Regions from separate parts of the Homo sapiens genome. Here all the other regions are linked to region 1. The links come from fine-mapping of genetic effects on gene expression. A gene starts in region 1. Each other region holds a variant in brackets. All regions are shown on one strand. Distances are from middle to middle.

Region 1 (10,113 bases):
TTCAGAAATAGGGAGAAGTGAGCTATTTCCTGAGCTCTGCTGGAGAACCCTCCTTCCCCATAATCAGCAAAGGGCCGATTAAAGTTTTTTCCTTAAATAGTCCACAGAGCAAAGGTTGGTTAAAGAAGCCAGGGCAGGGAGATATGAGGAAAGAGGAGAAGCAAAAACCAGAAACTTCACGCTAAGAGTCAACTGAAGATCATTCAAATTTAAAGCACTCAGGCTGGGCACGGTGGCTCACACCTGTAATCCCAGCACTTTGGGAGGCCGAGGCAGCTGGATCACCTGAGGTCAGCAGTTTGAGACCAGCCTGACCAATGTGGTGAAACCCTATCTCTACTGAACATACAAAAATTAGCTGGGTGTGGTGCCGTGTGCCTGTGGTCCCTGCTACTTGGGAGGCTGAGGCAGGAGATGGCTTGAACCCGGGAGGTGGAGGTTGCAGTGAACTGAGATCACACCACTGCACTCCAGCCTGGGCAACAGAGCAAGACTCTGTCTCAAAAAAAAAAAAAAAAATTAAAGCACTCAGCAAATGTAAGTGAATGACGAATAGCAATATGCAACTTGCTTGACCTTCTCAACTCTTTAAAGCTCATGAAACGAAGCACACTGCTACCCATCAGCTTGCTAAACCCCTTTAAATGATGGGGATCTGGACCCTTGTATGCGAACTCTGCTGGTGCAGGGGAAAGGGAGGGCAGCTGTTTCCCTACATTCTTGGGCTTTCCTAGGTTTCCACAAGCAGGCTGAAAATTCCAAAAAGAATGCTAAATACATGCTCCAGGTTCATTTATCCAACTCTTTCCTTGCATCACCTTCTGGATGTTTCACAGGCATTTCCAACAGAGCAAGGGCAAAACAGGTCTTTTGATGTCCCTCCAAAAACCTGTTCCTCCTTCAGGCTTTCCATCTTAGTAAATGGAACCAACATCCACCATATTAGATTACTCCATTAGATTCCCCATACCCCACATCCAATCCACCAGCAAATTTTGTCTCTAATTTTAAAATCTATCTGAATCTGTTCACCTCTATCTCCACTGTTACCACCTTGTACAAACCAGGTGTCATTTCTCACCTGGACAATTAAATGGGCTCCTAATTGGTCTCCCTGCCTCTGCCAATCTAGAATCTAACCAGCAGCCAGAATGAGCTTTCAAAATTAAAATAATTTCATTCCACTGCTTAAAAGTAATGACTTCTAAATGGGCAGAGAATAAAGATAAAACAATCTCTGAATGAAAGTTTAATGTGAGCTCGGCTGGGTGCGTTGGCTCACACCTGTAATCCCAGCACTTTGGGAGGCTGAGGCAGGTGGATAACCTGAGCTCAGGAGTTCGAGACCAGCCTGGCCAACATGGCAAAAACCCATCTCTACTAAAAATACAAAAATTAGCTGGGTGTGGTGGCAGGCGCCTGTAATCCCAGTTACTCGGGAGGCTGATGCAGGAGAATCGCTTGAACCCAGGAGGCAGAGGTTGCAGTGAGCCAAGATTACGCCATTGCATTCCAGCCTGGGTGTCAAGAGTGAAACTCTGTCTCAAAACAAAAAAAAAAAAAAGAAAAGAAAGTTTAATGTGAGCTACCCCTGCCTCCCTGTGTGACCTTGTCTCTTGGCTTTCTCCACCTCATGTGCCATGCCCAACCAAGAGCTTATTTCCACCTCAGACTCTTCATACTTCTGGTTTTCTCTTCTGAGAACACTCTTTTTTTTTTTTTTTTTTTTTTTTAGGTCTTATTCTGGTCATTTAGGTTAAAGTTCACTTCCTCAAGAGCAGCCTTCCCAGACCACCCATCTAAAATAGACTCTTCCATTCACCCTTGTCACTCTGTCTCATTGTTGGTTCTTTTTAAGTTTGGGGATTTTTGAAAGTTTTTTCATAGCACTTATCACTATCTGAAATTATCTTTTTTTTTTTTTTTTTTGAGACAGAGTCTTGCTCTGTTGCCCAGGCTGGAGTGCAGTGGTACGATCTCGGCTCACTGCAACCTCTTCCTCCTGGGTTCAAGCGATTCTCCTGCCTCAGCCTCCTGAGTAGCTGGGACTACAGGCATATGCCACCACGCCTGGCTAATTTTTGTATTTTTAATAGAGACAGGGTTTCGCCATGTTGGCCAGGCCAGTCTCAAACTCTTGACCTCAAGTGATCTGCCCATCTTGGCCTCCTGAAGTGCTGGGATAAAGGTGTGAGCCACCACACCTGGCCATCTTGATTATCTAATTGTTTACTTCTTTTTTTGTTTTGTTTTGTTTTTCAAGACAGTCTCACTCTGTAGCCCAGGCTGATTATCTAATTGTTTACTTCTTTTTTTGTTTTGTTTTGTTTTTCAAGACAGAGTCTCACTCTGTAGCCCAGGCTGGAGTGCAGTGTCGTGATCTCCACTCACTGCAACCTCTGCCTCCCAAGTCCCAGTTGAGCAGTTCTCCTCCCTCAGCCTCCCGAGTAGCTGGGATTACAGGCACGCACCACTGTGCCCAGCTAACTTTTGTATTTTTAGTAGAGACGGGGTTTCACCATGTTGGCCAGGCTGGTCTTGAACTCCTGGCCTCAAGTGATCCGCCCACCTCGGCCTCCCAAAGTGCTGGGATTACAGGCATGAGCCACTGTGCCCAGCCTGTTTTTTGTTTTTTGAGACAGGGTCGCATTCTGTCACCCAGGCTGGAGTGCAATGGTGCAATCTCAGCTTACTGCAACCTCTGCCTGCTGGGTTCAAGCAATTCTCATGCCTCAGCCTCCCGAGTAGCTGGGATTACAGGCATGTGCCATCATGCCAGCTCTTTTTTTTTTTTTTTTTTTTTTGTATTTTTAGTAAAGACAGGATTTCACCATACTGGCCAGGCTGGTCTTGAACTCCTGACCTCAAATGATCTGACCTCCTCAGCCTCCTAAAGTGCTGGGATTACAGGTGTGAGCCAGCATGCCCGGCCTTTGTTTACTTCTTATATTTATTATCTGTATTGGCAACTAAAACGTAAGTGTCATCAGGGCCAGAATCTTGTCTAAAGAGTTCCTGGCTGTAGAAGACACTCATACATGAATGAATAATTAGTTTAATGAAATTCTGACAACAAAAAGACAAAGGCAAACCTAGACACAGACATAGTCTGGCTCAAAAATACAGATTTCTGATCTGTCACAGCTTCATCTTTGAAAGTCAGCCTCATTCCATACCCACCCTTTCCTCCCAAAAGGCCTGAAAGTTTTGAAGTGGCTTCTGTGCCTTCTTTGCCCTTGGCCTGCCTCTGAGAGACAGAGTTCATCTGACTTTCCACTCACTTCCTAGTGACCTTGAGTTCATTTACAGCCAAAGACAATAATGGGTGTTTAACTCACCAAGACTCCTTCAACCCAGGGCACTCCACCTCCCCCAATTATTGCCAAGTCTGGTTTAGGTCTGACAGCAACTGAGGCTATACCCTCCATCCCCTCCATCCTCCCCCAGGTTAGGCGAAATCTTCTCTCCATTGTCAAGCAAGGTGTGAATTTTGATGAAGCTACTCAGGGCAGAGAGGTGGTTGGAAATTAGGTGGGAGTGATACTCTTTCATCAAATTAAGGCTCGGGTATTACCAAGAAGTAGGGTCAAAATTACGTCAGCCAGAGAAATATAAATCCATTAGACTAGAGGAGGATCTTTAAAATGAGAAAAAGTTGCAGCCATGGAGTAGAAGACCCTCTGATTCCCTCTTTCCAAGTGTTGATAGTAGAGCTTCACCGCCATGAAAAGTCTGTGGATGCTGAGACCTGTGCTCCCCTTCTCTCTGAGGCAGGCCTACAGAATTGGGCATGAAACAGCAAAGGATGGCCTCTGCTTCCACCACCATCAGAAATGTTATATTTTCACCAGTGCACCATAATGTAGCAGTCTCTCCATAATGTAGCAGGTGAGGTATCACCTGGAGTTCTTCGTCTCATGACCAAGAAAATTAAGGAGCGTGGATGCAAAGGATGAAGTTGCAGCGAAAGTTTAATAAGCAAAAGAAGAAAGCTCTCCACAGTGGAGAGGGGACCTGGAGGAGGGTTGCTGCTTTTACAGGTGACTGCAAAGGCTTTTATAAGAACCGGTGAGGGCTGGGCATCTCATTTGCATAAGGCATGAATTTCTGGTAGCTCCACCTCATCCTTCTAGTGTGCATGTGGGCCCTTAGCTTAAGTTTTATTCCATATTGCTTTTTTCCCCTTACTGCGCATGTGTCAGGGGATGGAATTTTCCACTGCAGAAGTATCTGGGCAAGTCATCTGGGTAGGCTTTCATATCTGTGTGGCTGTGGGAATGTCTTAGTCAAGGCCACCTGTGCAGATCCCCTTATCTGTGCCTGCAGCTTGATTTTTCAGGCTGTTCTTTTGTTTGAAAGAATTTAACCAAGGACCCACCCTAACTGATGCCTGAAAGGTTTCTTCCTTTCTCCTCTCTCAGTATCTTCCCTTGTGGACTACACCAGTGTCGAAATGTTCTTGCTAAAAATGATGCAGGGAGAAAGACAAAGTTACAAAGTTGGCATCCACAATTTTTCCATCTTGCCCCACTTCCCAATTAAAATGAAGGAAAAAAAATTGGTGAGGTCTCCATCCCTGTCTGAAGCAGGCATCCATTATCCTGCCCAGGTCAGTTGCTGCAATGGGAAGCATGACTTCATGTTTTGTCAGATGTACCAAATTTTCAAGAGAAAAGCCAGAGAGCTGAATATTTGTGTGAAATTTCCTGATTTTTAAAAGTTGGCAATTGTATCAAATTAGGATTATACTCCACTAAATATAACATAAAATCGAAAAGAACATGCAGCATAAATGAGAGAAATGTTTTCCTTCATTAGAGGCAGTTCAGTGGCTCCACAGAGATCAGGGACCCAGGTTCCTTCCAGCTTTCTGCTCTATCATTCCTAGGGGGTGACCTTTATCTTCATGGCCCAGTGTGACTGCAAGAGCTCTAGCATCCAAGTTCCCAGCAGAAGGATGGAGGACTGGCTGGAAAAACAAGGAGACACAGGGTATGCATCAGGTATGTTTCAAGGGAGCTGCCACAAACCACATCTGCTTACATCTTATTGGCTAGAACTTAGCTGCATGGTGACAGCTAATTGCAAGGGAAGCTGGGAAATGTAGTCTCTATTTCAGAGGCACTTACTATAGGGAATAAAGGGAGAAAGGCTCTTGGGGTCAGCAATTAATAGTCTGTGTCATAGTAACTATATCAGTCAGGGTTCTCCAGAGAAACAGAACCAGTAGGAGGCATACAACAAGTCTGAAATCTTAGAAAACACCAGCAGGCTGGAAACTCAAGCCAGATTTTTATGTTACAATCCTGGGGCAGAAGTCCTTCTCCAGGAAATCTCCGATTTTGCTCTTAAGGCTTTTAACTAATTAGATGAGGCCTACCCACATTATTGAAAGTAGACTCCTTTACTTAAAGTCAACTGGTTGTAGATATTAACTATATCTGCAAAATATCTTCACAGCCACATTGTTATTAGTGTTGTAACAAAAAACTGAGCCCCGTAGCCTAACCAAGTTGACACATATAATTAACCATTACACTAATTCACAATTTTAAAAACTGTGCATACAAAACAGTAGCTGTCTATGAGCACGGTATGACCTGCAGCCTGCCAGTTTGCAATCCTTTCTTTGCATGTCGGAGCAAGGGGCTTGGCCCTTTATAGACCTACGATGTAATAATACCCTAACCACATACCCACCATACGACTGGAATCACACATACACTGCCACAAGAGGTCTGCAGTGAAGGTCCCAAAGTCCCAGACAGTATGTAGAGAAATAGTCCTGTTTTTTGTTTGTTTTGCTTTTACCACTGTGGAATGCTATCTGATAACACACTTTTCTCACTCCTTTCTGACTCATAAAATTATTTTCACTGTAAAACCCAAACCTCAGTTGCTAGGTAGTGCCCCCACAGGAGGGGGCAGTGAGGGGAGAAGGCAGGGAGCTGGGGCTAAGAAAAAGCCTAGGGCTTTGTCAGCCTATAATCACCAACCATTCCACTCACCCAGTACCACTCAGACAGAGGAATGAGACTCTTCTATGCTCGCCCCAGACAGTTCTTATCTGGTGTTCCTCTTTCAAAGTTGTCATGCTGTAAAGTTGTGTTTTCACTGATTTGTAAGAGCGGTTTATATATTGTGAATATTTATTTTTTCTTTCTTACATGTATTGCAATTGGTTTTTCTAATTTTTAAAACATTGTTTATGATGTCTTACACTGTAATTCTGTACAGGCTTACAGCTTTTCTGAGTCTATTTGAATAATATAAGTACTAGAAATGTGGCTAAAATGGGCCCATTAAAAGCATTGGGCCAGGCACAGTGGCTCATGCCTGCAATCCCGGCACTTTGGGAGGCTGAGGTGGGCAGATTGCTTGAGCTCAGGAATTTGAGATCAGCCTGGGCAACATGGTGAAATTCCATCTCCACAAAATATTAAAAAAAAAATAGCTGAGTATGGTGGCATGTGCCTGTAGTCTCTGCTACTCGGGAGGCTGAGGCAGGAAGATCACCTAAGCCCAGGAGATAGAGGCTGCAGCGAGGTATAATTGCACCACTGCCCTCCAGCCTAGGTGACAGAGTGAAGAAAAAATAAAAATAAAAAGAAGGAGGAAAAAAAAGCATTGACACACTTTCATGCAGGCTGGAGGGCAGTGGCGTGATCACAGCTCACTCCCAGGGTCAAGTGATCCTCCTGCCTCAGCCTCCCGAGTAGCTGAGACTACACACGTGCACCACCATGCCCCGCTAATTTTTAAATTCCTTGTAGAGACACAGTCTCACCCTATTGCCCAGGCTGGTGTTGAACTCCTGGGTTCAAGTGATCTTCCTGCCTTCACCTCCCAAAGTGTTAGGATTACGGGTGTGAGCCACTTTGCCCAGCCGGCACACAAATTATATCACCTAGAAATCGATAATTTCACTAAAAGCCAGGAGATGAACTAAAATTATTTAGGGTAAATATGTGTCTTATGTTTCTTAATTCAGCAACAAATTAGTTTTATGCAACAATCATCATATGAAAATAAAAACAATTATAATTCAGTGGATCTTTTTTCACTTTATGGGAAGCAGATTTGGTTTATCTGGCTTCAGTGCTTTTCCCTGCTGTTTATTTTTCACAAGTAAGTCATCTTTATTGTCATTTTGTTTTTACTGCAAAGTTCATTGGAGTCATCATTTTTGAAGAAACCAAAAATAGATGAGGTGGGCCCATATTGTGGTGGCCATTTCTCTGATCTTTAGAAAAATAGTTCTCCATATTTGAAAACAAAGAATGCTCATAGAAGGACAATCTAACAGGCTTGCTATTTATAAGATACCTGAATTTGACTCCCATTTGAATGGATGTTTATCCCTGTCAAACTTATGCTCTGGACAGCAAAACACATAATTTTTAAATTGTTATTATTATTTTTGAAACAGAGTCCCCTCTTGTTGCCCAGGCTGGAGTGCAGCAGCATGATTACAGCTCACATCAGCCTCGACCTCCCGGGCTCAAGCTATCCTCCTACCTCAGCCTCCCAAGTAGCTGGGACTATAGGTACGTGCCACCATACCCAGCTAATTTTTTTCTGTTTTTTGTAGAGATGAGGGTCTCACTACATTGCCAAGGCTGGTCTTGAACTCCTGGATTCAAGCAATCCTCCTGCCTTGGCCTCCCCACATGCTGGGATTACAGCCATGAGCCACTGTGTCCAGCCAAAACTCCTAATTTTAATGAGAATGGCATCAATTGAAGGCATTGTCCCCAATTGCTTTGTGACATCAGTCCTGGATTAAATGCAAACAGATTTTTCCTTATGACAAATTCTGCACTATAGCCCACAGTATTATTTACTCTTTTTTTCTTTCTTTCTTTTTTTTTTTTTGAGACGGAGTCTCTCTCTGTCGCCCAGGGTAGAGTGCAGTGGTGCAATCCTGGCTCACTGCAACCTCTGCCTCCCAGGTTCAAGTGATTCTCCTGCCTCAGCTTCCCAAGTAGCTGGGACTACAGGCGTGTGCCACCACGACCAGGTAATTTTTGTATTTTTAGTAGAGACAGGGTTTCATCATATTGGTCAGGCTGGTCTTGAACTCCTGACCTCGTGATCCTCCTGCCTTGGCCTCCCAAAGTGCTGGGATTACAGGTGTGAGCCACTGCGCCTGGCTATATTTCTTTACTCTTAACATAGATTAAATGCCTATTACCTGATAGATTTTATATGGCACACATTAAGAACATGCATTTTCTTGCATTTCTTGCTCTTTTTCTACTCTCCTTAAGCATTCATAGGCAAGCATTGTCTACTATGATGGCTTATAACAAAAATCTGTAACACTCTTACTTGTGGTCATTGCTGGCTATGTAATTCGCTGAGCCTGGTGCCAAACGAAAATATGGGACCTCCTCTGTAAAAAACAGGAAAAAAGTACAGTTAAAGATACTAATGTAATGGGATAATAGTGATACTGGAGTAACTACATGAACTTAAACATTGCTAAACTAATAATTGTGATGTCATAATTTTATATAATACAGTAAACAATAATCATTCATTAATGTGATGTCCTATTATATTTTTCTGGCTCACTTTTCTGCAAATTCATCAAAATTTATTCTTTTCATTTCACTTTCATTTTCAATAGATATGAAATTTATGTCATACAATTTCTTTACCAATAGATAAGACTGAAAGCAACACCAGCCAGTCTTGGGAAATATAAAGTCACAAATAAATTTTGATAATTTTTCATTTCGTAAAGGATCTTTCTGCTGATGCAGCTGTTAAGAGTGTTTCATAAACTGTGACAACACTAAGGTAAATTTCTGATAAATTATTTTGAAATATAAATTTTAATACTTCTAGAGTTGTTGGTTCTTGTGGAATAATTTTTCTAAAGGGACTTAACTCCTTAGACAACTCAGTTTTCTGTAAAAGTCTGAATTTAATTTTAAGTATAAATTTACACAATGATATTTTAATGTTTCTGCAGACATAAGGAAATATTTCCTGAAACTTGTGGAGGTCTTACAAGAAACTGAAAGTGGCTTCATAATTTGTATATAATTCATAAGGCCTGTTTATGTATTCTGTCACTGACTCTTCAATTATAAGAAAAAAAACATGTTTAATTATCTTTCTGCCAAACAATTGGTTTGTACTTCCTAGGAAAATAGCATTCTTTTCTGTAGAATGTGACAATCTTTAAACTTAATTTCTGTTTCTAAGCCTGAGGTTATTTGCTTTGCCATGTTGTAGTAGTTTTCAAAACTAGACATTTTAGATCCTTTAAGAATTCTAATAACCCCCTGCTATGCTATGACAATATTCATGTATACACTTTTATTGTATACATGTTGTACTAATTTACTGAGAAGTTAGCAGAATGAGTTCCTGTCCCAGTACTCAGGATGGAGAGTTACTATTTGTGCAGATGATGCGGGGCTAAGCTCTGGCAAGGGACAGGCGAGCTGGTCTCCCACTGGTGGTCCTGGCAATGTCCATATGCAGAGCCCTTTCCTGTCTTTGGAGCCGCAGCCATTGCTGTCCTGACTGTTACTCCTGCTGCCCGCCACCATCACCACTGCAACTGGGCCCAGGTACTGGCTCAGCTGCACTCTGGACTGCCCTGAATCATGCACACATGCATGCGTTCCCCGCTGGGGTGTTTCCACTGCTCATGTGCATGCTTCATTGTCTCACTGGCTTCACTTACCAAACACAAATTCGAAGATAAAATCACTAAGAATTCCAAGACAGCAACAGCAGAGGATTAAACCAAGCATGTGCCCCTTCTGAGAGTGCAACTGCACAGCATATGGTCCTATAGATAGTCTATTAGGTGTCAGGATTTGGGCTTTGTGTAGAAGAGAGGATAAGGTGGTGAGGAAATGATGGGCACTGACAGATTTCCTCCATGATCTTAACTTAAAGCAATAGGTTGTTGATAAATCTACATCATCTTCATACTGAAATGAATGCTCTTTGAGAGCAAGAATCTTGTCTTATGCAGCCCTGTATTCCCCATGGGACCTACCTCTGTGCCTTCCATATAGCAGATGTTAAGTACGTTAGGTTGAACACATAAATTGCTATTCTTCTGTTTCAGAAGGGTAACGTGTAAAG
Region 2 (10,113 bases), 180 kb before region 1:
GATTTGCGTTTGAACAGTGTTTGCTATTTCATGGAGTTCACTAGCCCTGGGAGGGGCAGACTCTACAGAATCAGCAATGTGTCAGATGCCAGAGCATCAAGAATACATAAAATAAGAAAATATGGTTAATACACAGAGAAAGAAAAGGAGTAAATACTTCCAGCAAACTTAGAGGTATAGAATCATTAAATGTTAATAAACTTGCAGACAGTCAGAAACCATTTAGATTTGCTTCATGAATCCAGGCGTTCAACAGCGAAATTGTCAAATTATGTAAATGTTGAGAGAGTTGGTTTTTTAAACAGTTTCAAGGTTCTCTATGGATAGATAAATAGGTAGCAACATTTATTGAATGCTCACAGTGTGTCAGGCACCCTGCTAAGAAATTTACATGTATTATTTCATTTTTTTCCCAGTAATCCCTTGTGAGTAGCTATTAGTATTATTCCCATGTACAGTTAGGGAAACTGAAGTGTAGAGAGATTAAACAACTTGCCCAAGTTTATGCTATTAACAAGTACTGGAACTGGCATTTAAACCCAGTGTAGTCTGAGCTTAGAATCCAAGCTCATAATCACTCTCCTCTACTACCTCTCTGTCTATAATAAATCTATATTTATAACAAGTAATTACAAATATCCACAAAGTCTTCGAAGTGAAGATCATCTTAGCATGACTGTTACTAACATTTAAATGGGGATAATAATAGTACTGGCTTTGTAACATTTTTACAAGGATTAAGTTCATTAATGTTATGTATTTAAAATAGTGCCTGGTAACATAGCAAGCACTTGGTTAATGTTGGATATCATTATTCTCCTTAATGAAGTATTCAACTTGTACATGAGAATTTGTTGGCACAACATCTAGATAAACTCTCTATAGCTATGATTTAAACCTAGTCTTAAATACAAACAAATTTAAAAGTCAATAGCAAACTTCTTACACTTTCCAATAACCATGATAACACAAATTTGCATATAAAAAGAGAAATTGGTTTTATAAGATCATTCATGGTTATCCCATCATTTAAAGTGTTTGATATGGATAGGCATTATATTCATTGCCCTAAATTGTTATTACATATGAGAATGACCTTAAGAATATGACAGTATTCTTATGTAATTTAATTTCATGTTTTAATTAGAAAGAAGCGGTTACAGGAATGGAAAGCTCTTAAGAAAAAACAAAAATTTGGAGAATTAAGAGAAATTTCTGGAAATCAGTATGTGAATGAAGTCACAAATGCAGAAGAAGATGTGTGGGTTATAATTCATCTATACAGATCAAGGTAATTACCATAATATTTCAAAATGTTAATATACTACTATTTTAAAAGACATATTTTTGGTTTTAAGGTTTTACAAAGTATATAACAGTACTCAAGAAAAAGCAACTATATATTGCACACATATACATCCATAGAGGTTTTGATAGTCATTGGCTTCAGGGATTAAATTAGGTATTTTAAGATCTTTTCATTTCTAATTTCAGGAACTTGTCACACTTTTTAGAAAAATAAGCACTCTTTGGTAGTTTTGTTAAAAACTTTTTATTATAGAATATCTCAAAAACAGAGAAGTGGAAGGAATGAGAAAATGAACACTCTAAATATCGACCATACAGATTCAACAAGTAACCTTCTGCCATATTTATATAACTGTTTCTGTGTGTGTGTATATTTGCATTTGTAGAAAGTGAACTGAAAGTAAACTGAACATAGCATGATGATTTATTCCTGTGTACTTCAGCATGCACCTTCAAAACATAAAGGTGTTGGAAAGAAAAAAAAATTATATTTCCTCTACCCATTTTAGGTTTATTGGCTGGGGCCCTGCAAGTTGGACTGACAAAAGACAGGTTAACAAGAGAAAAACAAACAGAAGTCTATTTACAAGTGCATTACACATACACATAGGAGAGCTCAGTGATAAGTAACTCAAAGGGGTGGTTAGAACTTGGGCTTATATAGATTCTTAACAAAAGAACAGCAAATTTGTAGAGAATTGATAAGACAACAGAAAGGGTCTTTGAGCTTCTAGGAGTGACAAACTGTGGGATGGTAAATACATGGGTGAAACTATGTATTCAACTTGTTGAATCTATATGGTCGATATTTAGAGTGTTTAATTTAATCAAAATTAAAGGTTGTTTTAGCAAGGTTTGTTATATAGATTCCTCTGGTGCCTCACTGGAATGATAAGAATCTAGAGCTTTATCCAGTGATTAAGAGTGTCCTGCCCTTCCTGGTAGAGACAGGAGTGAGGATGTTACTGGGTGGAGAATATTTTTCTTGTGTCTGTTTCTTTTCAGTTGTCTTTAGCTCAAAATAATCCTTATGCCAGAGTGGCTTATTTTGGTGTGGTATACTATGAATCCCTTCAAGAACGTTCTTCTACATAACCACAATACCATTTTCTCACCTAACAAAATTAACAGTAATTCCTAATACCATCTAATACGTCGTCCTTACTCAGATTTTCCCGACTGACTTAAAAATATCTTTTATGAATACATATGTTTTGGACAAGGAGTCAATCAAGAATTATGCAGCACATTTAGATATATCAGCTCTCTGAAGTCTCTTCTAATAGAACAATTTCCCTGCACCCCTGCACTCCCCCATTCCTCCAAGACAGTTAATTTAAAAATACCTGGTTGTACTAAGTATAACCCACTGTCCCTAGGCCTCACCAGTCTTGCCTAGTAAATGGGGAAAGTAGACTTTTGAATGTTTCTCTCGTTCAGTCCTTCTAGCTTTAGGTCCCTACCCCTCTGCCTCAGGGCTATAAACCATTCTAGGAACAGAGGCCATGACAGCAACCTTCACTGTCCTTATCTCAATCTCTGAATAATAAATGTTTTTATCTTTAGGTCCTCAGGGAAATTATATACAGAGCAATTTATGCAAATTATAGCCCTGTATATAACCCTGTATAGCCTGTATGGCTATACTTCGCAGTTCCTGAGTCAAATTTTGACAGGACAACATGCCCCATAAAAGAAAATGCCCCATAAAAGTTATTTTATTATAACTAAAACTCTTGGTAGATTAATTTTTAAGTAGCTTTAAAGTCCTTAAAAGAATGTGTTGACCTAAAAGGAAGAGGCTGGGGCACAAAATATAATTTAAAGAGTTTACTTGAGCCAAAGTGAGGATAGCTGCCCAGAAGACTAAACCCAAGTACCTTTGGATATGATCTCCCTTTAGCCTTTGTTATGAGCAGGTTTGTGAAGACATAAAAGGAGGACAGGGAGTGGACTGATACAAAGTTGTTTGTCAGGAATTCTCTTTGGCTTAAGGAAATAACATTGATTAGTGACTGGCAATATATTGTTAAGCTATAAAAGTTACAGTGTCTGAAGTATTATTGGGTTGATTCATAGCTACTTGCAAGCAATAGCAAGCAGTTTCAAGAGATGAATACATAGGTCAAGGAGGGAGTAGGTTGTGATTCTCTCTTTTTATTTTTGATACAGGGTCTCACTGTGTTTCCCAAGCTGGAGTACAGTGACAATTGTAGCTCAATGCAGCTTTGAATGCTTGGGCTCAAGCAATGATCCTCCTGCCTCAGTCCTCCAAGTAGCTTGGACTACAGGTCTGCACCACCACATCTGGCCAGGTTTTAAAATTTTTTTGTAGAAATGGGGTATTGTTATGTCGCCCAGACCGGTCTCAAACTCCTGGCTTCAAGTGATCCTCCTGCCTCAGCCTCCCAGAGTATTGAGATTACAGGCGTGAACCACTGTGCCTGGCCTGCTGTCTCATTTTAATGACTCCGTGGGGGTAAACATTTAAAAGGACTTGCATTCTTCAGAGAAAAGTTATTTCCTGAAATCACACTTCCATATTACCTATACTATTTATTTGGTTAACCAGTTTGTAAATGCTGCTTGTAGATCTCACAAATAAGGATGAGAAACACGGACATTTATAAAACAAGGATCTGTTTGTGGTAAATATTATATACTGAAGTGGTTTACTGAATGTTTTTTCTGATCCTGTGTGGTTAGCAGAGTAGATATGGCTTCTAAGTAAAATTATCTAGCTTAATGGTTACTTCCAGATAAATTACTAGTTTTTAGAAATAATTTTTTAAAAATTCATAAAGAGGTTGAATGTGATTTAGTCTGCTTCAAATTGTTGTATGCTTTGATAGACTCAAAAAGAAGGATGTGGTTTCATAATACTTTAAGTAAACCTTCTCAGAAGGTTTTTCTGGGCCACTCTAAAGTAGTTACATATTAGTTTTCTGGACATTAAGAAAATACATTCCTGGGGCTGGGTGCGGTGGCTCATTGCCTGTAATCCCAGCACTTTGGGAGGCCGAGGCAGGCGGATCACTTGAGGTCAGGAGTTCAAGACCAGCCTGGCCAGCATGGTGAAACCCCATCTCTACTAAAAATACAAAAAAAAAATTAGCCAGGCTTGGTGGCGCATGCCTGTAGTCCCAGCAATGTGGGAGGCTAAAGCAGGGGAATGGCTTGAACCCGGGAGGCGGAGGTTCCAGTGAGCCAAGATCATTGCACTCCAGCCTGGGTGACAGAGCAAGACTCCAAATCAAAAAAAAAAAAAAAAGAGAAAAAGGAAAATACATTCCTGTGTTGGTATAAAACATATATTTTGAAAATTAATCTGTAGTAATCTAAATTTATAAAATATAACAGAAAATAATTGTGTTACAAATATTCTTTAGAAAACTTTAGTTTTTAACAGTGGATTTACTGGCCAG[G/A]CTCGGTGGCTCATGCCTGTAATCCCAGCATTTTGAGAGGCCGAGGCGGGCGGATCACCTGAGGTCGGGAGTTTGAGACCAGCCTGGCCAACATGGCAAAACCCTGTCTCTACTAAAAGTACAAAAAAATTAGCCGGGCATGGTGATGTGTCCCTATAATCCCAGTTACTTGGGAGGCTGAGGCAGGAGAATCGCTTGAACCTGGGAGGCAGCTCTGCAGTGAGCTGAGATCACATCACTGTACTCTAGCCTGGGCAACAGAGCAGGACTCCATCTCAAAAAAAAAAAAAAAAAAAAAAAAACAGAAAAATGGATTTACTTACAGCTTTTTAATATTGTAAAGTTGAAGGACAGCTGTTAATTTATGTTTTTGTAACCACACAATGGGTTCATTTTGCCTGCTGCCCATATAGAGTCAATTTATCAAGACAGGGGAATTGCAATAAAGAGTTTAATTCATGCAGAGCCAGTTGAACAGGAAACTAGAGTTTTATTATTACTCAAATCAGCCTCCCCCAAAATTTGGAGGCTGAGGTTTTTCAAGGACCACAGAATGGGTACTGCTGATTGGTTGGGAATGCAATCATAGGGATGTAGAAAATGATCCTTGATATGGTTTGGCTGTGTCCTCACTAAATCTCATCTTGAACTGTATTTCCCATAACCCCCATTTGTCGTGGGAGGGACATGGCGGGAGGTAATTTAATCATGGGGGCAGTTACCCTCATGCTGTTCTTGTGATAATGAGTGAGTTCTCATGAGATCTGACGGTTTTATAAGGGGCTTTTCCCCTTTTGCTCAGCACTTCTCATTGCTGCCACATGTGAAGAAGAATGTGTTTGCTTCCCCTTCTGCCATGATTGTAAGTTTCTTGAGGCCTCCCCAGCCATACTGAACTGTGAGTCAGTTAAACCTCTTTCCTTTATAATTACCCAGCCTTGGGTATGTCTTTATTAGCAGCATGAGAACGGACTAATACAGTCCTCATGTGTGCTAAGTCTGCTTCTGTATGGGGCCACAGTACTGCTTGGTGGGTCCAGGTAGAGGCATCAGTCATCAGAAATGCAAAAACCTTAAAAGATATATAAAAAAGACCAATCTTAGGTTCTACAATAGTGTTGTTACCTGCAGGAGTAATTGAGGAAGTTGCAAATCTTGTGACTTCCAGAATAATGGCTGGTAATTGTTTAAGTGTGTATCATAGCAGAGTTCAGGCTCCTCTCATCCTCCTAACCTAGTCTTCCCTTAGCTTTACAAAGGTGGTTTTAGTTTTGGGGAAAAGCTATTATCATTTAAACTGTAAACTGAAATTCTCCCAGAGTTAGCTTGGCCCAAGTCCAGGAATGATTCGGGGCAGTTTGGAGGTTAAAGGGAAGATGGGAGTTGGTTAGATCAAATCTCTTTCACTGTCATAATTCTCTCACTGTTAAAATTTTTACAAAGGTGGTTTCATTTTTAGCTACTTTCTATCAATTTTATAAAAGGGTGGTGTTTGTTTTTTGATTAGGCTCCTAAATTCTATAATTTCAATGGCTCTTTGCCATCAAATTGATAGGATTAGACCCACTTTTTATCGGAATGAAGGCTTAGCCTCCTTAAGGTGCCTTAGAGGGATCTAACTCAACCTGGGCCAGTAAGCCCAATGATTTAGCTTTAAGTCAGTCTTGTTTCTGGTTTTATTTAATCTTACCCTGTACCCCAATTCTATTTAATCTATGCCTGTACCCCAATTCTAATTTGGGGCTTTTATATTATTCTTATACCCAAGTGTATATTTTGAAGCTTGAATACCATAAATAGTCTCTTAACTTGTTTTGTGATGTTAGAGGTCTGCCTCATATTTTACAGCTCTTCTGGGGTTAAAATTCTGGCCCTGAGCCCCAACACCAAATTTGTTCCCCTACTACTTGCTGTCAGAACTGTCTTCGGGCAACCCTTTCTCCCTGCATCACAATCTGTTATGCAATATTCTCTTAATTCTATACTTTTCACTGCCACCACCAATACCTACCTGACTTCTGCCATTCACACTACTGACCCACCCCACAAATATCTGTTGTACCACTGACTGAGCTTTCATTCTGACAAAATTTCTAATGAAAATTATAAAATTTCTCTGAATTAGATATTAGTGGACTCATTTCACCTTGAAGGAAATCAAAACATTTTACCCTAAGATATACTTTCTTGACATATTTTGAGATGGGTGTTCAGAGAGCCAGCAAAACTGAAGTAACCCCGTAAAGCTGTCTTTTGTGGAGGGGATTTGCAACTGTAGAGAAAATCTGCATTCATGCAGTCAGGCCTTCTCTGAGGGCCTTCCCTTGTCTGATTTAGGACCAAAGTTAACTGAGAATCTGATGCCTTGAAAGGTCTAAAAGAAACATTTACCATCTATTCTCTTTGAGGGCTGCTACCTGTAAGGTTTCATCTACATAACAACACCACTTTTGCTATCCAGGCCTCCTCTTCTCTGCCTCCCATAGCCTGTCTTGTCACTGTAACCTGATTTACCCCAATAACATGTTTTTGGCCATGCCAGAGCCTCCATTCTTTCTGTAGCCTCAAGATGGCATATAAGCTTCTGTCCCCCATTGGAGGGTTTGGGTAATCACTTTGTGTTTCCTCTCTCATGTACATGTTAATAAACTTGTGTGCCTTTTCTCCAATTAATTTGCCTTTTGTTAGTTGATCTTTCAGTGAACCTTCCTTTGGAGGGCAAAGTTTTCCCTTGGCCCCTAAAACCTTGCATTTTTTAGTAGAGACAGGGTTTCACCATGTTGGCCAGGCTGGTCTCGAACTCCTGACCTCAAATGATCTGTCTATCTTGGCCTCCCAAAGTGCCGGGATTATAGGCTTGAGCCACTGCACCCGGCTCAAATTGAATATGTTTATGTAAAATGGAGAAAGAGTCTTTGGAGAAGGAAAGATGAGAAAACAGGAAAAGAGGGAAGCAGAATAACCAACAAAGATCCCAAGGGAGGTGGAAGGAATGTGGAATAAAGTAGAGGTGAAGGGATTCACTTGAAAGTTGGATAAACTGGGAGAAAAGGGACTAATCGATCAAGGAGTGTGATGAGAATTAAGTGATAAAGCAGGAAGAGCTGAGGTTGTGGTCACACTTCCAATCAATATTAAATTTCTGGTAAGGAATAGTTCTGGATAATGGGCCACCAGGATGTGGCATGGAGTGGGATTCCAAAGACTGGAAGAAGTTTGTTGGAGTCAGGAAAGACAGTTCTGGATATGGTAAACTCATTACATGGAAAGAAGCTCATGATGGCAGCAAGGGTTGGGATCCTTTTGTTTCAACTCAGAACTGCAAAGGATTTCCTAGAAGTGTCCTGTTTTTTTTTTTTTTTTCTACAAACTGGGTACCTGCTTGAACCAAACTGATGCTCAGTTGAATGTAGTTTCCCTAAGTTAAGCATCAGCTTGCCATGGTAGCTAGCTTCATTCCCGGGTTATAATGGTGCTTGCAATAAAAACCAGAGGACTCTACATACAGTTCTTCATTGCTAAAGGTAACAATAGAGGATGATAATAATGTGCTTTTATATTAATCTAAGATATATTTTTGCCATGGCGATATTTTACTTATTTCATTAGACTGAGATGAGTAGCCCATTTATTAAAGATTGTGTGTACTGTTTCTCTTTTTAGCATCCCAATGTGTTTGTTGGTTAACCAGCATCTTAGTCTTCTAGCAAGAAAGTTTCCAGAAACTAAATTTGTTAAAGCCATCGTGAATAGCTGTATTCAACACTACCATGACAATTGTTTACCAACAATTTTTGTGTATAAAAATGGTCAGATAGAAGCCAAATTCATTGGAATTATAGAATGTGGAGGGATAAATCTCAAGCTGGAAGGTAATGTTACAAATTTTGTTTATAAAAATGATAGGTGAAAACATCTGCAAACTAACAAGCATCCTGAAAGCTTACTTCCTTAGTACCAAGGTTTTTTCCTTGCTTCTAGTCTCTTTTTATATGCCTCCAGATTAATTTTCCTATAGTAATACTCTAATAACACCCCCTTGCTTAAAATCCTTAATAGTTCCCTGTCTCAAGTAAATTAAAAATTTAGAATCTTCTCCTTTAGAATCTCCACCCACCTCTCCAACTATATTTCTCAGTGCTTGCTAGTTTCTGTTCCTGTTAGGCTGGTCTTCAGCCACAACCCACAAATAGACATTACTCATTTGTGCCATCACACTTTTTTTACACATTCTCTGCTTGTACCTAATGTATTCTACCTTTCTCTATTATCCAAATCCAAAGTTTATTCCTTCATGAGTCTGTTCAATTTTTATTTACTGCATTATGTAATATTGGACCAATTCGTAATCTTTTTCTTCTCTACTGAATTTCTGTAGTGTATATTCTCAATGCATCTTTCTTTTCACTTATTAGCATGATATCTAATTTTGTTGATGAATCAATTCCCTTTGAATTTTATCTTCCTAAAAGGTGCATGGACCATGCCTCCTATTACTTTATTTTTCTTAGCACACAACACAAGACTTTCTATTTTTATCTTCTTTAATTGTTTTTACTTCCTAAGGTCATCTCTTTGATATATTCATTTTTTGGCACTGCTTTAACTCGATTTTACAAAACTAAAAATCATTTTCTCTCACCATTGTGTTAAAGTCATCATGAGTGGCTGTTTTCGGTTTTTGTTTTTTGTTTGTTTGTTTGTTTGTTTTTGAGACAGAACCTTGCTCTGTCACTCAGGCTAGAGTGCAGTGGCATGACCTTGGCTCACTGCAACCTCTGCCTCCCTGGTTCAAGCAATTCTCCCTGCCTCAGCCTCCCGAGTAGCTGGGATTACAGGTGGCCACCACCACACCTGGCTAATTTTTGTAATTTTTAGTAGAGATGGGGGTTCGCCCTGTTGGCCAGGCTGGTCTTGAACTCCTGATCTCAGGAGATCCGCCCGCCTCAGCCTCCAAAAGTGATGGGATTACGGACGTGAGCCTCTGCCCCTGGCTGGTTGTTTTCAATAGGTATTCTTTGACTCTGTCAGTCCCCCAAAGCTGTTTTTGCCCTTACCGAGACCTCTGATACTTTGTTTCAGAATTTTCCCATTTTTCTTTTAATCTTCTAAGGCCTTTCCTTGTTTCACCACCTTGTTTTTTGTAGCTTGGACCTTTTCTTTTTAATTAAAAAAATTAACAACATAAGAGTACATAAAAGAATACATAGAATAATAATATAGTAAGCATTCATGAAATCATTATTGTCTTCTCTGTTTGGGATGCTATAATAAAAATACTGTAAACTGGGTGGCTTATAAACAAGAAACTTTATATTAATGTCTCACAGTTCTGGAGGCTGGGAAGTCCCAGATCAAGGCGCCAGCAGATTTGGTGTTT
Region 3 (10,113 bases), 24 kb after region 1:
GGGACAGTAAACTGCAAGATGAACAACTCAATGCCATCCAGGTCTGGATGAGAAAGAACAGTCGAGAGACTGAGTTTCAGGAGTGGAAACACTCAAAGCATCATCTTCCACTTTCTTCTCCGGCTGCTAGGAAGAAGGGAAAAACACAGACCTTCTGAGGACCTGCGGAGCAAACCACTGGCTTCAGAAAAGCAAACAGGGACTTCCCTCTGCGCAGCAGGAAGCAGTTAGCCTAGTCGGAGGCTTGACTGAAGAAACAAATGTATCCACTGATAATGGGCAAGAGCCTGAGGCTCTGGAGCCAAGGGGGAACCCTAAAAAGCTGATTCAAGTAAGAGAACCAAGGATCATGCAATTCCACATGGCCACCTCGAAGCAGGAATCCGTTAATGATAGTAAAGGACTGATGAAAATCCACCGGTCTACCTGTGTCAGTTTATTTTAAAAGCTTGTTTTATATAATCAATCTACTATAGTCTTTTAGTGTTTACAAGTTTAGCCATTTAACTACTAGGTTATATTTTTATAAGTTCAAAACAGGCTGGGTACAGTGGCTCACACCTGTAATCCCAGCACTTTGCGGGGGCCAAGGCAGGAGGATCACTTGAGGCCAGGGGTTTGAGACCAGCCTGCCAACATAGCGAGAACCTGTCTCTACAAAAATGAAATAAGCAAAATATTAAAAATACAGTTTTAAATCTGACAGGCTTCAAGAGCAAGTCAACAGGATGAAAAGTTACAGTGTCTGGAAGTTCAAATCACTAAGTCCCTTATGCTAAATGCAGAGAGTTTACCTACAGGAAAAAGGATTTGTTAAGGGTAACGCCAGAATTATAATGCAGGAAAAGGGAGGCAGGTGGAAGGCTCACATTTCCTCAGTTCTACTCAGTATTTAATTATTTGTTTATTCATTAGTTACTTAAGGAGTGCCTCCTAAGCCTGGCCCTGCTGAAGGCACAAAGGATAAAGCAGGGAATAAGTCAGGCAAGATCCCAGTCCTTATAGAGCTTACATCCTAGTTTACAGATAGTCTTCTTTTCACTTTAAGAAGAACCCTGTGAAATCAGTATGTGTCAATAATTACTAATGAAGGCTGTGAGGCTCAGAGAAGCTCAATGAGCCAGATGCAGGCCCATCAAGACTCTGGAGCCCATGTTATTTCTATCACGCCCTTTGGTTGGCAAATGCCCCAATGTGTTTTCTCTCAATGAATTACTGAAACCAACTTTCCCCATATTGTCCTAAATGATCCCAGATGACCCTTGAAGGACAAGGAGGTGAAACAGAAAACAGCTTCAGAAAGGAGTGCTTAGAAAGCTATTTTTGTGGGCTCCTCTTCCTTGACTATCTACGCAGGAGGGAAGGCAGAAGTTGAGACGCAGCCAGTAGAGGAAACTCCGGGAGAGGCAGGTAACGCCAACAAACAAGAACACGCTAAAAGCTAGCAGTCACCAAGCGCTCTGCAAAGTTCCTTTAGGGGGAGAACCAGCACTGCCCACCAGGAATGACAGCCCCTTCCATGGTACTGGCTGGCAGAATGCCACCACAGACATGCCTGGGAGGAATAAGTTCAGAGGAATCAGAGAGATGCTAGCTAAGTGGCTGGAGCCAATCAATAATTCATGAATTGAGAAAGATCGTCAATAAATCCTTTAAAATCACTCCTCTAGTCAGAGGCCTTAGGTTGAGCTACAGCAACAGAGAGACGACTTTCACGGGGCACTCATACCAAAATCTAACCTGAGGAGGAAGCTCACTCACAGATTGTTGGAAATCGCTAGACCTCAGCCTGAGTTTACAAGGATGGACAGGGCAGCTGAAAACATGGAGCCCTGGGTTTAGAGACAATGGTCATTACAGACCTACGGGGTCTAGACTGACAGATACTAAGGCTGCAAGGTCAGGTTAACCTCAGCACTATAAACTCATTCCCATCACCCCAAGCGACTTGAATTCTTTATAATCATGCATTGTTTTTACAAAAATGGTAGTCATATGTGTTAGGTAATGTCCCCTCCTCCCCCCATAAAACAAAAAATCCATTTCATTTCCTTCTCGTAAACAAGGTCATGGTTTGGCTCCCCTCTTCCTGGCTAGTGAGAGCTTAGAGACTAAAACACAATTTTCACTACCACAGTACTCTTTGTCCTCTCCTCTCAGGCAGCGTCACTTGAAGAAAAGCTCTATTGTGATGGGAACAATCACAGGAACTAAGCGGCAACAAAATGGCTCCCCACCCCCTCTGCAAATCCCAACTCCATGCAAGCACTCTCCCTTCCCTCATTTTCTTTTCTTTTTTTTTGAGATGGAGTCTCGCTCTGTTGCCCAGGCTGGAGTGCAGTAGCGCGATCTCGGCTCACTGCAACCTCCACCTTCTGGTTTCAAGCAATTCTCCTGCCTCAGCCTCCCCAGTAGCTGGGACTACAGGCGTGTGCCACCACGCCTGGCTAATTTTTTTTTTTAATTTTTAGTAGAGACAGAGTTTCACCATGTTGGCCAGGCTGGTCTCGAACTCCTGGCCTCAAGTGATCCACCTGCCTCAGCCTCCCAAAGTGGTGGGATTACAGGTGTAAGCGACCACGCCCGGCCTTTTAAAATCGACTTGAGTCTCATCTCCTGAAATGCAAAATGCATTGGGCCTGTCTCTTACTTCTGCATGTCTCATAATGCTTAGCACAGCACAAGCCCCGAGAGCGCATCATACACCCTGGGGTGGGGAGCTCCTGGCAGGGCTGGATCCACTCACCATTCCTGCCATCCATTGGCACTTGGCTCAGCACAGTTAGGCCAACAAGGACATAATAGACAAGTCCAAAACAGTACTGCACGACGTGAATCATGACATTGGAGAAGACACTGACGTAGAGGCACTCGAAGAGTCTTCGTAAGCTGTGCAGCCACAGAAATACTAGCACTAAGAATGCAGACAGTGCCAGCTCCCCTCCTACAATTCAGAAGGCAACAGGGTCAGCATTTCTCTTCTGGGATTAATCCAAAGTTTTGTTTTTCTGTACTGTTAAGCAAAGTATTAAATCCCATCTAACATCTTTCTTTTTGGTAGTAAGGAAGAAATGGGCCAAATGAAGTCAAGGAATTTGACTTCACTCAAATTACACAGTTCACTGTGTTACACAGTTCACTGGGTTCACAAACACCCATCACTCAATTCTGCTTCATTGTGTGACAGCCTTCCAGGCTTCAGGGACATCACGGTCAGGAGGTCTGTGAAGAGGTCTGTGGGTTTCTGGTCCTGGCACTAACAGCCAGATGCAAACTGGAAGCGTTCCTGGTAGCCTCTGAGTGGCCCCAGCTGTGGGATCCCCAGTATCTCAGGCATCACAGAGGCAGAGAGGGGGACAGGAACAGAAACAGAGTTATGCATTTCTTTCCACATTAAAAAAAAGAAATTATACTTTTAGAGGCATGCTGAGCCCAAGATCTACTTCCTCACCTGTCTTTCACGACCTGCCCACCAAAAAATCTGAAGAAAAGCTGGCTTTAAAAAAACACACACTTAGTTTCTCTTTTTTTCTTTTTTGTTTTTTATTTTTTGGTTAATTTTATGTGTCAACTTCTTTATTTTTGAGACAGGGTCTTGCTCTGTCACCCAGGCTAGAGTGCAGTGGCACAGTCAGGCCTCACTGCAGCTTTGAACTCCTGAGCTCAAGTGATCCTCTGTCTCAGCTTCCTGAGTGGCTAGAACTATAGTCATGTGCCACCACACCTGACTAATTAAAAAAAAATTTTTTTTGTTGCCCAGGCTGGTCTCGAACTCCGGGCCTCAAGCCATCCTCCAGCCTCAGCCTCCCAAAGTGCTGGGATTTTAGGTGTGAGATACCACGCCCAGTCACTTAAAAAAGAAATGAGTCACGGCCGGGGGCGATGGCTCATGCCTGTAATCCTACCACTTTGGGAGTTGGAGGCGGGTGGATTGCCTGAGCTCAGGAGTTCGAGACCAGCCTGGGCAACATGGTGAAACCCTGTCTCTACTAAAAATACAAAAAATTAGCCAGGCATGGTGGTGTGCGCCTGTAGAACCAGCTACTTGGCAGGCTGAGGTAGTAGAACTGCTTGAACCTGGGAGGTGGAGGTTGCAGTGAGCCAAGATTGGGCCACTGCAATCAGCCTGGGAGATAGAGCAAGACTCTGTCTCCATTAAAAAAAAAAAAAAAAAAGTCTCACACACAAACACACACACACGCATGCACACCATAAAGATGCAACTTAATTAACTTTTACAAATTAAGCCAACCAATCCCACCCATGTAACAGCACCCAGATCCAGAAACAGAACACTTTAGGAAGCTGAGGTTGGAGGATCGCTTGAGACCAGGAGTTTGAGACCAGCCTGGGCAACACAGCAGGTACCCCATCTCTAAAAACATTAAAAAAAAAATTAGCTGGGCATAGTGGCGTGCACCTGTAGTCCCAACTACTCAAGAGGTGGAGGAGGGAGGACTGCTCGAGCCCAGGAGTTAAAGGCTGCAGTGAGCTATGATCATGCCACGGCACTCCAGCCTGTACAACAGAGTGAGACCCTCTCTCTTAAAAAAAGAAAAAGAAAGAAAAAAATGAAACAAACAAAAGAAACAGGCTGGATGCGGTGGCTCATGCCTGTAATCCCAGCACTTTGAGAGGCTGAGGCAGGCGGATCACAAGGTCAGGAGTTCAAGACCAGCCTGGCCAACAGAGTGAAACCCTGTCTCTACTAAAAATACAAAAATTAGCCGGGCATGGTGGCGCATGCCTGTAGTCCCAGCTACTCAGGAGGCTGAGGCAGGAGAATCGCTTGAACCCGGGAGGGGTAGGTTGTGGTGAGCTGAGATCAGGCCACTGCACTCCAGCCTGGGCAACAGAGCAAGGCTCCATCTCAAAAAAAAAAAAAAGAAGAAACAGAACACGAACAGCACCCCCTAGTGTAGGCACGACCCCTCCCCCAAACTTCCCATGGGGAACAACCCCTATCAGCACAGATTAGCTTTGACTGTTTTTGTATTTTAAATGAACTAAAACTTAGTTTTAACTCCTTAGGAACAAGTTAAAGCAAACAAATAGAATTCCTCATATCCTCACAACCAACCCTCCAAATACCAAAACACCCCAGTCAGTCTCACAGTAAACAAACGAAGAGATGAAGTTTTAACGAGTGGAGTGAGATCCGCTGATGTAGCCTACCCTTCCAAAGAGGATGTCCACGGGTTTGCTCTTTTTTTTTAGATGGAGTCTCACTCTGTGGCACAGGCTGGAGTGCAGTGGCATGATCTCAGCTTACTGCAACCTTTGCTTCCTGGGTTCAAGCCATTCTCCTGCCTCAGCCTCCTGAGTAAGTGGGATTACAGGCACGCGCCACCACGTCCCGCTAATTTTTTGTATTTTTAGTAGAGACGGGGGTTTCACCATGTTGGCCAGGCTGGTCTTGAACTCCTGACCTCAAGTGATCCACCTGCTTCAGCCTCCCAAAGTGCTGGGGTTATAGGTATGAGTCACTGCCCACTGTTCCCGGCAGGGTTTGCTCTTTTTTTTTTTTTTTTTTTTGAGACGGAGTCTTGCTCTGTCCTCTTAGGCTAGAGTGCAACGTTACAATCTTGGCTCACTGCAACCTCTGCCTCTTGGGTTCAAGCAATTCTCTCTCCTCAGCCTACCGAGTAGCTGGGGTTACAGGCATGTGCCAGCACACCCAGCTAAGTTTTGTATTTTTAGTAAAAACGGGATTTCACCATGTTGGCCAAGGTGGTCTTGAATTCTTGACCTCAAGTGATCTGCTCACCTCAGCCTCCTGAAGTGCTGGGATGAGAGGCATGAACCACCACACCCGGC[C/T]GGGGTTTGCTCTTCTGATTGTCATCTTTTGCAACCAGTTTATCTGGTTATACAGAAAAGGATTGTTTCTAGGTGGTTTGGCCACTGGAACAAAGGACAGAGATGAGACTAGAACAATTTGTTTCTAATTCTGCCCCTCACACTCTGCCTGACCTTAATTGAGGACATTTCATAGTTTTCACCTTCAATTCTTTATTTTAAAAACTGTTCTGGCCGGGCGCGGTGGCTCACACCTGTAATCCCAGCGCTTTGGGAGGCCAATGCGGGTGGATCACCTGAGGTCAGGAATTCGAGACCAGCCTGACCAACATGGAGAAACACCATCTCTCTACCAAAAATACAAAATTAGCTGGGCGTGGTGGCACATGGCTGTAATCCCAGCTACTTGGGAGGCTGAGGCAGGAGAATCGCTTGAACCTGGGAGGCAGAGGTTGCAGTGAGCCAAGATTGCACCATTGCACTCCAGCCCGGGCAATAAGAGCGAAACTCCATCTCAGAAAAAAAAAAAAAAACGTTCCATATTCTTCATCCTGATGCTGAGGATGGCAAACTTAAAGGCTATTTTGTAATCGTCTGTTCAACAACTGTTTAGTCAATTTTATTATACTACCAAAGCCTCACAGCATAACTTTTTTTCCATGTTTATCAAAAAGTAATTTTTATTTATTTTATTCATTTATTTATTTATTTTTTTGAGACAAAGTCTCCCTCTGTTGCCCAGGCGTGGAGTGCAGTAGCTCAATCTTAGCTCATGGCAACCTCCGCCTCCCAGGTTCAAGCGATTCTCCTGCCTCAGCCTCCCGAGTAGCTGGGATTACAAGCGCCTGCCACCACACCCAGCTATTTTTGTATTTTTAGTAGAGTTGGGGTTTCACCACATTGGCCAGGCTGGTCTTGAACTCCTGATCTCAAGTGATCTGCCTGCCTTGGCCTCCCAAAGTGCTGGGATTACAGGTATGAATTAAAAAGTAATTTTTTTTTTTTTTGAAACACAGTCTCGCTCTGTTGCCCAGGCTGGAGTGCAGTGGCCCGATCTCAGCTCACTGCAAGCTCCGCCTCTCGGGTTCATGCCATTCTCCTGCCTCAGCCTCCCGAGTAGCTGGGGCTACAGGTGCCCGCCACCATGCCCAGCTAACTTTTTTTTGTATTTTTAGTAGAGACAGGGTTTCACCGTGTTAGCCAGGATGGTCTCGATCTCCTGACCTTGTGATCTGCCCGCCTTGGCCTCCCAAAGTGCTGGGATTACAGGCGTGAGCCACCGCACCCGACAGAAAAAGTAATTTTTAAATCACATTTCTGGAGTTCTAAGTCATGAGTTTGGTTGGAACAGTATAAATGATAAATGTTTCCAGACAAACCTGACAGATCCTAAAAGCTTTCCCCCTTTTGTGTAAAGACTTCTTCATAAATTTATCAACAGTACTAAAAATACCAGAGGGAGGGCAGCCAGTTCTGCACACAACACAGCACTTGCTGGGAAGTCAGGAGCGCTAACTCTTGGCTCTGTCTCCTTCTCAGGGAAGGGCTTAGGGACATCCTTTTGGCCATCCGGCAATGAACCGTGCAAAGCTCTTTTTTGCCCTCATCCTCCACTTCCCAGGCCCTTCTGAGGAGGTGCCGAGAGAGGAGACAAAATGCCAAAAACTGCTCCCTTGCAGACAGGAACAACAGAAACGGGATGCAGCGTTGTCATAAGCCCAGGGAGTCCTTACCCTGGAACTGTGCCGCCCCGAGAATTCTGAGCAAACCATGAAGCCAGCTTGGAAAAGGTGCTCCCAGGAACAGAGATTGAGTAAGGCACCAAAGCAGGAAGCCATTCCACAGCACTGAGATGATATAAAAGTGGGAAAAATATCTGCAAAAGGAAAACAAGCGAGGCAATAATTAGGGTAGATCCACTTCAAGCTCTTATACGGGAAGATTATTTTTAGTTTCTCTGTCTTTCCCCACCCCTCCATTCCCAAAGTATACCTTTGCTTTTTAATAGAATCTGAATCCTATAGGTGTTCAGGTTCTTAAAATTTCCTTTCAAATAACGGGACCAGTTAACTTTCAGGAAAAAGAGGCCTCTCTGAGGTTAACAAGAACACAACCAACTGTGTTAAACTTAGAATAAAGTTTAGTTAGCAATCTCTCTGATTGCTGGGTAACAGAATTGGACTCAAGTTCCCAAAACGGAGGCTGCAGGCCCTTGCAAAGAGAACCTAGACTGTGCTAAAACAAGCTAAATCTGTGAAAGATTTTGATTTCTATATCCCAAACAATATTGCAGTAATAGCCACACAACTGTTACACATGATTTGCATAATCGCAGACACTTGGGGCTAGAGGAAGTAAAAGATCTTCAGGCATGACTCAGTGTTTTTCCAAATTGGGTTGACCTAAATTACTTTTATTATAACATGACTAATACTACAATCATAAAACTAGGTATTAACTCCTTATGGTTATAATTCTCAGACAACTACAGGGCCTATTTTGCAATCAACACATCTACAAACTAAATACAAATAGGACCACAAAACCAATGCAATTGAAATTAGCGATGTTAATTTAATGCAAAAGATGATGTTGATTTGCTGAAACAAAAAAAATCACCTAATATGGCACAAGGGCCTAGGGCCTAGCAGGTTCTTCTTCTTCTTTTTTTTTTTTTTTTTTTTTTGAGACAGGGTCTTGCTGTGTTGTCCAGGCTGGAGTGCAGTGTTGTGATCACCACTCACTGCAACATTGACCTCCCAGGCTCAAGTGATCCTCGCACCGCAGCTTTCCAAGTAGCTGGGACCACAGGCTTGTAGTAGTCCACCATGCCTGGCTAATTCTTAAACTTTTTATAGAGATGTGATCTCCCTATGCTGCCCAGGCTGGTCTCAAACTCCTGGGCTCAAGAGATCCCTCCCACCTTGGCTTCCCAAAGTGCTGAGATTACAGGTGTGAGCCACCATGTCCAGCCCCTCATAGGTTCTTTTGAGGTCTGTTTATGTATACTTTTCTATTTTTTTCTATTCAGTCTGAAACCTTTCTGACTCTATTGAGTGCCTGGCGGTCATCTGGCTTTCCCTGGTCTTCAATGCATCGTGCATATATTAAATCCCACTCCTTCTTTTCTTTTTCTCATTAGTCTGTGACAATAAAAGACAACCTAGAGCCAAAAGAGGATTAAACATAATCGCAGGGGCTCCTCCAGATGATCCAGAATGTGCTTGTAAGAGAATGCACAGCCCCTGAGATCATGCCTACAAACTCAGTCTGATAAACTCTGATCCAACCTGATCATTCCATGGCAACCCACTCCACTCTGCCAATTACTGTTAGCAAATTCTATCACTGGCCAGGCATGGTGATGCATGCCTGTAATCCCAGGGCTTTGGGAGGCCAAGGTGAGAGGATCCCTTGAGGCCAGGAGTTTGAGGTTATAGTGAGCTATGATTCTGCCTCTGCAACTCCAGCCTGGGCAATAGAGCAAGACCCTGTGTCTTAACAAATAAATAAATAAATAAAATTCTATCACTGGATTTGCCATCTCTGGCCACACAGAACAAGAATTTTAATTCCACACAACATCTCTTAAACTATTTGAAGAGAGCCATCCTGTGATTCCCAATTGGGATCTTCTCCAGGCTTCAAGAGCCTACTTTTCACAGAAGTTCATGCATCAAGGCCAATCGCCACCTGTGGCTACTGATCTTTGGTTATACCACAGGGTCTTCCTTAAGACACACTTCCCACAACTGACCCCAGGTTATGGTCTGAGCCTCGTGGAGCACAGTGGAAGGTCAAGAACATGCTGTTCTGCAGGCTCCCAGGAAAAGGCAGGAGGGATAGCTTCTGAAGGACAATTTCTGGACCAGCCACTTTACGTACTTAATTTTTTCACAAATATTTACTGAGCACTTCGAATGTGTTGGGCAATATTCTAGAAGCTGGGGACTCAGCAGGGAGTAAACAGACTAGGTCTCCGCCTTAATGGGAGTTTACCTTAGAGTGGGGAGTCAGACGGTCAACAACTAAACCTGCAGACATCTAGCATAATGCTGGGTCAGGGGACAGAGGGTGCAGAGGGGAGGCTGTTCTGGATGGATGGTCAAGGGTGGCTTCTCTGGAAGTAACATTTGGCTAGAATGAGTCATCCCTGTGGATTTCTAGGGGAAGAACTTTCTAGGCAGAAGAAATAACAACTGCAAAGGCAATGAGGTGGGTGTATACTAGGGGTGTTCAAGGAACATTAAAAGACATCTGTACATTGGCATGGCCAAGGGCGAGGGTAGAAGGTGAGGCAGGAGTGGGGAGAGGACA

What was found. PIP is the estimated chance that this variant, and not a neighbour inherited with it, causes the effect.
Region 2: its variant is the best candidate, but not a certain one, in a credible set for the expression of SRD5A3-AS1 in spinal cord (GTEx, PIP 0.60).
Region 3: its variant is the best candidate, but not a certain one, in a credible set for the expression of SRD5A3-AS1 in esophagus muscle (GTEx, PIP 0.84).

Annotation. Positions count from the first base shown.
Region 1 is chr4:55,381,199-55,391,311 of GRCh38, reverse strand. SRD5A3-AS1 (SRD5A3 antisense RNA 1) reads left to right here and starts at 5,732. Exons shown (of 4, transcript NR_037969.1): 1 at 5,732-5,767. It overlaps LINC02928 (long intergenic non-protein coding RNA 2928), which reads right to left. Exons shown (of 3, transcript XR_941060.4): 2 at 8,332-8,395; 3 at 3,040-4,969.
Region 2 is chr4:55,560,896-55,571,008 of GRCh38, reverse strand. PDCL2 (phosducin like 2) reads left to right here. Exons shown (of 6, transcript NM_152401.3): 4 at 1,148-1,291; 5 at 8,397-8,605. Among named protein-coding and RNA genes, the nearest start is that of CLOCK, 19 kb to the right of the region's middle. The variant G/A (reference allele first, on the strand shown) is at 4,734.
Region 3 is chr4:55,356,905-55,367,017 of GRCh38, reverse strand. SRD5A3 (steroid 5 alpha-reductase 3) reads right to left here. Exons shown (of 5, transcript NM_024592.5): 2 at 7,530-7,672; 3 at 2,747-2,944. It overlaps SRD5A3-AS1 (SRD5A3 antisense RNA 1), which reads left to right. Exons shown (of 4, transcript NR_037969.1): 4 at 1-417. Among named protein-coding and RNA genes, the nearest start is that of SRD5A3, 16 kb to the right of the region's middle. RefSeq lists enhancers at 1,066-1,753, 1,754-2,442. The variant C/T (reference allele first, on the strand shown) is at 5,818.